Homo sapiens: one gene and its partner. The protein of the gene in region 2 purifies or fractionates together with the protein of the main gene of each other region. This does not show direct contact. Each region holds a gene or a part of one and is shown on either strand. Other genes may lie near its edges.

Region 1 (3,751 bases), on a different chromosome or scaffold from region 2:
CGAGAATTGGTATGTGTAGCAGCTTGGAACCTTGTCTTTGAAGTCAAAGCACTTAGATTTAAATCCCAGCTCTACTGTTACTGGTAAATTGCGTTCTTTTCCTAGTCTGTATCAGTTGCAAAGAAAGCACACCAACTGGAAAAAACGGCAAGCGGGTTTCATTCCTGGCCAGGAATAGAGAAGGAGTAAACTTTCACTCTAAAGACCCCCTTCTTCCAGAGCTTTGGGAAGCTGGGGAATTGTAAGGCGTTAGATGTGGAGTGGGGAGGTATGCAAGCATATGCCGGGAGGAACTCTAGACGCACAGGTGCATTTCATAAACATGCCTCTTCATACAATGCACTATCAGAAAATGGCGGCGATTCTCTTCTACGGGTCGGGAGTTGAGCATATAATGATGTATTAATGATCTAAAAGTAACAAGGGGTGGCTGGTTCTGGTTTTCTCTGGTTCCTAGTAGGCCTTATCTTTCTCTGGTACTTGGCAAAGGGCAGTGAGGATCCCGGGCCAACCGCAGTTGTTTTAAGCTGGGTTACCTATAGATAAAGAGACTAGGAAAAAAAATCAAACAAACAAAACGGTTTAAAAAACAATGAGCATTTTCAGCTGTCTACTGTTTAAGAAAATAATGAGCTCTCAGTTTTGCCCTCTGAGCGATTTCTCCAGGACTGCCCTGGTAACACTACTACTCAACAGTTTTGTGCTTTGCGCAGTTACTTGACCTCCCTGGGCCTCGGTTTCCCCACCCATAAAGTGGGGATAACAGTACCTATTTCATCAGGTGGTGGGGACGATTTAAAATGGTTAATAATGTGCAGTTCTTAAAAGTGTCTGGCTCAGAATAAGCACCATACACGTTAGGGGGAAAAACAGCAGCCGGATGTGAGGCCCTCCCCAATTTCGTTACTCCATAAACCTCTGAGTTGCTGGTAACACCTGCAGGAATGAGAAGGGCCTCAACATGGGCTGAATTTCCAGCCAAACTGTGGGAAGTGGCTGAGATTTTAGGTAGGCAAAAAATGTTAATGTAACATTTTTGGCCCCCAAGTTCTCAGACCACTTACTTCCCTTTCTAGTCCACTGACATGCCCGCAAGCAATTCCATTCTGCCAAGTGGTGCTGGTGGCAAGCCGGAATCCAAGAAAAGGAAAGACTCCGATTTTAAGGGAACGGGGACATGCGGAGCCACGTGAGTCACTGGGTCCCAGAGCCACGGAAGGCTCTCAGCTCAGCAGTCAGAGTGCACTCGTCATTGCGTTCGAGGTTAGGTGGCCTAGCCTGGGAACCAACTCACCGTCATTTGAAATCGTTTTAGGGAAAATGACCCTAACATTTAAAATCCTCTCTCCTGAAGTTGTGTGGTCCAGCCGTTTGCTGAAGGAGGAAGCAAAGCCGGTAGTAACTCACTACATATTTGGGCAGTGGAATGAACCCTGGAAGCTGACAAAGTCGAAGCAAGTCACTGCGCCGCCCCCCACCCCCACCCCCACCCCAAATAAAAACAGAGAGACAATCCTTCAATTATAAAGAAGACCACGGCGCCCGGGTCTCCGGCAGGGGCCGCTGCAGCCGAGCAGAACGCTGAGCCGCTCCGCCCCACGGCCTCCTCTCCAGCCGGCGCGCCCGCCTCCCGCAGGTGCGTCTCTGCCTGCGCCGGGCCGGGGTCTCCGCGGCCTCTCCCGCTCGGGCTCCGGCTTCGAGGTCCCGACCAAGCACTGCTCTCGCGGGACTGCGCGCACCGCCCAGGGCCTGCCGCGGGCTCGCGAGCGGAGGTGGCACCGGTCCGCGGTGCGCATGCGCGGCCCGGCCTCTGCCCTGCGGTCCCGGGCTGGTGACTGGCTAGCGGTTGGAGGAAGGGATGTGGGGGATGGTGGGTGGGTACAGAGAGCTGGGAGGGAGGCACCCCGGGGGGCGGGGCGTGGGAGACTGTATTCGGGGGCGCGAGCTGCCCCAGGTGAGCCGTGGCTCAGGTCCGGAGCGCGGTCGGGACACAGCGCCTCTAGGAGAAAGCCTGGAAGGCGCTCCGGGGGTACCCAGAGCTCTTAGCGGGCCGGCAGCATGTGCGGGGCCCAAGGTCTTCCGGGCTCTGCGTGGGGGTCGCTGCGGCTGGAGACCAGGGAGGGGGATGGAAACGGGGTTGGAAAGTAATCCCACCCGAGCAGGTGGGCATGGGAGGCCGCTGTGCTGGGGAGCCCCGCGAGGGCTCCGAACAGAGCCTCCCTTTTCAGAAAGGTCACCCTGGTCATTGCAGCTGCCAGGGTGACCGAGGAAGGTGGCCGGGGTGGAGGCAGTGGGCGTGGAGAGGGGTCGGATTCCGGACGTAGTTTGAAGGTGGAGCCGTCAGGTTCTGCTGAGCAGCTTGGCTATGGGGCGTGCGAGAAGGGAAGGCTCAGGGCCTAGTCCCTGGGCACGAGTAGTAGCCGGGAGGATGAAGTCCCAGTGCTTCGGGGGGAGGCGGCTTGAGGACGGCTCTGGAGCTCAGGCTTGCCCGCGTGGAGTGGAAGCTGCCTCTTGGACACAGGGCGGGGAGGCCGCATGCAGTCTGGCGCGCTGGGAGGATGGGAGATCCAGAGGGGCAGGGCTGGAGGGGTAGGAGGAAAACCTGAAGAGGGTGGCGCCCGGAAGCCCGGGAAAGTGATGAACTGGGTCAGAGGCCGGGTATCAACAAATAGGAGGGTGGAGACGACCTTGAGGAAAGCAGGTGATGGAACGGGAGGGAATGGGGCCCCCTAGTGGAGACACCTGGGAGTGATGTATTGCATTTATTTAGCTCTTAGGCGTTCAAAAATTATTTATTGGGAGCCTGTACAACTTTTTGCAGTTCATTGCATTATCCTTAGCATGTATTTTGTTTTATATAAATATATATTTATATAATTATTTTTATTGACAAATTTATATATTTATAGCGTACAGTGTAATGTTTTGATATATGTATACATTGTAGAAAGATTAAATCAAGCTAATTGACATATCCATCACCTCACCTACTTATTTTTTGTGGTGAAAATCTACTCTCCTGGAAATATACAATACATCATCAACTATGGTCACCATGCTGTGCAGTAGATCACTAAAACTTACTCCTCTTACCTAACTAAAACTTTGTATCCTTTGACCAACATCCCTCCCTTCCACATCAGCCCTCTGCCAGGCCCCTGGTAACCATCATTCTACTCTGCTTCTATGAGTTCAACTTTTTTAGACCCCAAGTATATAAGTAAGATCATGTGCTGTTTGTCCTTCTGTGCCTGGCTTATTTTACTTGGCCTCATGTCCTCCAGGTTCATCCATGTTGTTGCAAATGACAGAATTGCCTTCTGTTTTAAGACTGTATAGTATTCCATTGTATATATGTGCCACATTTTCTTTATCCGGTCCTCAGTTGATGGATACTTAGTTGCTTCTATATCTTGGTTATTGTGAATAATGCTGAAAACAACACAGGAATGCAGCTATCTCTTCAACATACTGATTTCAATTCCTTTGTATATATACCCAGAAGTAGGATTTCTGGGTCATGTGGTAATTCTATTTTTAGATTTTGAGGAGCCTCCATACTGTTTTCCAAAATGGCTGTACTAATTTACATTCCACCAACAGTGTACCAGGGTTCCCTTTTCTCCACATTCTGGACAAAACTTGTTGTCTTTGATCTTTTTTATAATAGCCATTCTAACAAGCGTGAGGTGGTAGCTCAGTGTGATTTAATTTGCATTTCCCTGGTGGTTAGCAAAGTTGAGCGTTTTTC
Region 2 (3,751 bases):
CATTTACATTGTATTTGGTATTATAAGTAATCTAGAGATGATTTAAAACACATGGGAAGATGTGTGTAGGTTATATGCAAATGCTATATCATTGTATATAAGGGACTTGAGTGTCCATGGAGTTTGGTATCACAGGGATTCCTGGAATCCACCTCCCACAGATATCAAAGGATGACTGTACTTAAATTTATTCTGTAATTTTGACATAAACTTGTGGTTGAATTATGGGAAAATTTTTGTTGGAATTGTTAACATGTAAAAAGAATAATTCCAACTATGCAGTTACATTTTTTTCCCAGTTGATGTTATTTTTTAAAAATCTCCTTTTAAATAGGCATTCTACTGGAGATACCAAAGTTCCCTTCTGTCTTCAGTCCTGTGTAAAACCTTTGAAATATGCCATTGCTGTTAATGATCTTGGAACTGAATATGTGCATCGATATGTTGGAAAAGAGCCGAGTGGACTAAGATTCAACAAACTATTTTTGAATGAAGATGGTAAGAATTACATAAACATTGGTTGAAAAAAGAAATGTCTCATTTTCCTATGTAAATCTAAGTCGTTTTAAACATTTTTTGATTAAAATTAAAAGTATTTGTCATGTGATTTCTATATAATCCATTGAGAGAGTTTCATCACCTACTTTTAAAAATGATTATTTTAGGCATCTCATACCACTGGGAAGTGGGCTAGGGAGAACATGAACTTCTCTCTTCATAACCACCTTTAGGGAAATATAGCGAAATCTCAAAATACATGAGATTTGCTTTAAAATAATTTAGTTAAGGCAGCTGGGAGTGCTGGGTATGATTATTACTATATGTTGGTAATTATTGCAGCTAAATGATAGGTGCATGGGTGTTTGTATATTATTCTATCTATTATATTGTATATAGTAGTTGAAAGTTTTATTGTGGCCCTGGTTGAGATAGTGAGGATTATTATTTTTCAGTGAGTGTTTTTACTTTTTATCCTTATAACATTAAAAAATTTGAAAGAAATGCTTTGTGTTTAATGCTTGGTTAACAAATCTTTTTACAGGAATTCAAAAGAAAAGGGGAGGACAAAAGTAGTTAGTTTGATCTGATAGAGATTTTAAGTCTAAACATCATTTAGCTGAGTGCAAACTAAGTTAAACTAGTCCCATGGTTTGGTTTCTGTTTTTTAATCTTCTAAGCATATGCTGTGTTTCTGATTGATGAGTTAAGATATAGAATTGAAGAAAGTGAGAGCGAAGTTTGTAGTAATGGCTGTGAGAGATACACTTTTGTACTTTTTTTTTCTGCTGTATAAAAAATGAAATGTGCCTTATACTCATTATTTTATTAGTTTGTAAGATGAAGTCATAAGACTGGTATTTTCTTATGCTTCTCATCCTATTTATTTTGAGAGCAGTTACATTTTCTTTCCCATTTTACCGTAACCTTTTTATTCTGATGCTACGTTTGGTTTTATGGACATTACTGTAAATTAACAACTTCAATAAGGACATCATATGCAGAAGCACTTTATTTACTAAGCTCATTGACATCTAGATTTAATATTGAAAGAATTAATACTGTTATTCTAAAAATACCAAATATTTTAAAAGAAAAATTTAATACTTTTCCATGAACAGCAAAGGAGAATAGACATGTCTAGTGAATTGATGGATTTCGAGGGAGATATTTAAGAAAAAACAAATATAGTAATTTGAATGTTTAGAGGATTTCAGAAACAAAAAAACAAAATGGGCTTGGAGCAAATGAAATTAACAGTATAAGTAATGAATTTTTTTGCCATATATATTTATGGTTTTAGGAATCATGAATTATTGATACTGTATTCTATATAAGAAAAAATGACAAATCAGAGATTTAGAATTGTTTATAATAAGAATAAAACATAAAGTTTAACAAGAGATTTTGCCTCGATATTCATAGACGTTTTCTAAGCCTGAGCCAACACCCTGAGTCTTGAAAGTAACAGTAAATACAGGCTTCACTATATTACACCTTCCTGAATTCTGATTAGAGCCTGTGCTCTTGAGTCCTGATTTAGTTTAGCCCAGCAAAAACAATTTGAAGATCTCGTTCATATTTAAAATTGCAAGGGTAGATTTTTGGTGAAACCATACACTTTTTGTGTGTGTATGTATATATGTGTGTATCTAAAATAATAAATTTTTAAAAAATAAATATATTACTGTTACACCAGCTTTATAAGATTGTGATGATTTATTAAGACTAATAGGGATATGGTAAATAGAGAAATTGTAGTAGTTTTTTTTTTTTTTTTGAGATGGTGTCTGGCTCTGTCCCCCAGGCTGGAGTGCAGTGGCATGATCTCGGCTTACTGCAAGCTCTGCCCCCCGGGTTCACGCCATTCCCCTGCCTCAGCGAGTAGCTGGGACTACAGGCACCCGCCAGCACGCCTGGCTAATTTTTTGTATTTTTAGTAGAGATGGGGTTTCACTGTGTTAGCCAGGATGGTCTCGATCTCCTGACCTCGTGATCTGCCCGCCTCGGCCTCCCAAAGTGCTGGGATTACAGGCTTGAGCCACTGCACCCGGCAGTAGTTTTTAATAACAGTAGTTTTTTTTTTTTTTTGAGACGGGGTTTCACTCTTGTTGCCCAGGCTGGAGTGCAGTGGCGCAATCTCGGCTCGGCGCAATCTCGGCTCACCGCAACCTCCGCCTCCCGGGTTCAAGCGATTCTCCTGCCTCAGCCTCCCGAGTAGCTGGGATTACAGGCATGTGCCACCACCCTGGCTAATTTTGTATTTTCAGTAGAGACGGGGTTTCTCCATGTTGGTCAGGCTGGTCGCGAACTCCCAACCTCAGGTGATCTGCCTGCCTCAGCCTCCCAAAGTGCTGGGATTACAGGCGTGAGCCACCACACCTGGCAATAACAGTAGTTTTAAAATGTTTGCAACATAGAAAGTTTTGGTAGGAGGTGGCTGATATTTTTTATCATTATAAGTGAGCAAACAAGTTACTTTATGGAGATGTCAGTTTTGCAAACTACCATCTCCCAGGGAAGTCTTTTTCTACCTTGTAGTGATCGGGTTAATCAACAAATTATTTATATAGCTTTCCTTGTCTGTATTGTTAACAGCTCTGGAGGGTACATGGGCCTTGCTTCTTGGAATAACTTTTCTGACTACAGGATACAGAAGGCAATTACATATTTCTAATACATAATGGGAGAAGACATACTTAAGCATTGAATACTGTTAGTTGTATTATCTTACAAGTATGTAATTGACAGGTGCCAAAATGTATGTGCTGATTATATGTGTGGAGGATTGAGAAAAAAGAGGAGTTGAGTTAATTTACATGAGGATGACAGGACTGAATTGATAGGATGAATTGTGGATGGTTGGGAAGAATGTGAGAGGGCACTGCACATTTTTTCCAACCATCCTCAATGGGCACTGCACATTCTTCGTAACCATATATATCCCAACCAGATGGAGAATATTTTCTCTATATCTAGAGAATATATTGTAAATGTGTGTAATGTCAGATAATTGAGTTTCCTTAACTCCAGTTTTTATTTGGCACTGTAAAATTCCAATATAATACCGAAAATATAAATATCCAAATTAAATTGGAAATCCTTTTTAATATTTTTCGTTCTTTAGTATATGTATTAGCAAACTTTGCCTCAGCCTCACCTGTGAACAAAACCCTTGTAAGGTTCATATGCTTAGCAGCTTGAAAAGCTTCTTTTGATATAATATGAAAGAATGCTGTGTATTTTATTGCCT

The links. Proteins that work in one complex are often made in the same cells at the same time.
Region 1: the proteins of GLS (region 2) and SIRT5 purify together in Homo sapiens (affinity purification with western blotting; 3 studies listed by BioGRID and IntAct, with this or other methods). This does not show direct contact.

What each region holds. Positions count from the first base shown.
Region 1 is NC_000006.12:13,572,671-13,576,421, forward strand, and holds the start of SIRT5 (NAD-dependent protein deacylase sirtuin-5, mitochondrial), read left to right. Parts: upstream 1-1,930; 5' UTR 1,931-2,074; exon of another isoform or gene 2,075-2,701; intron 2,702-3,751. UniProt on the Homo sapiens protein: NAD-dependent lysine demalonylase, desuccinylase and deglutarylase that specifically removes malonyl, succinyl and glutaryl groups on target proteins.
Region 2 is NC_000002.12:190,904,670-190,908,420, forward strand, and holds part of GLS (glutaminase kidney isoform, mitochondrial isoform 1 precursor), read left to right. Parts: intron 1-334; coding exon 335-498; intron 499-3,751. UniProt on the Homo sapiens protein: Catalyzes the first reaction in the primary pathway for the renal catabolism of glutamine. Plays a role in maintaining acid-base homeostasis. Regulates the levels of the neurotransmitter glutamate, the main excitatory neurotransmitter in the brain.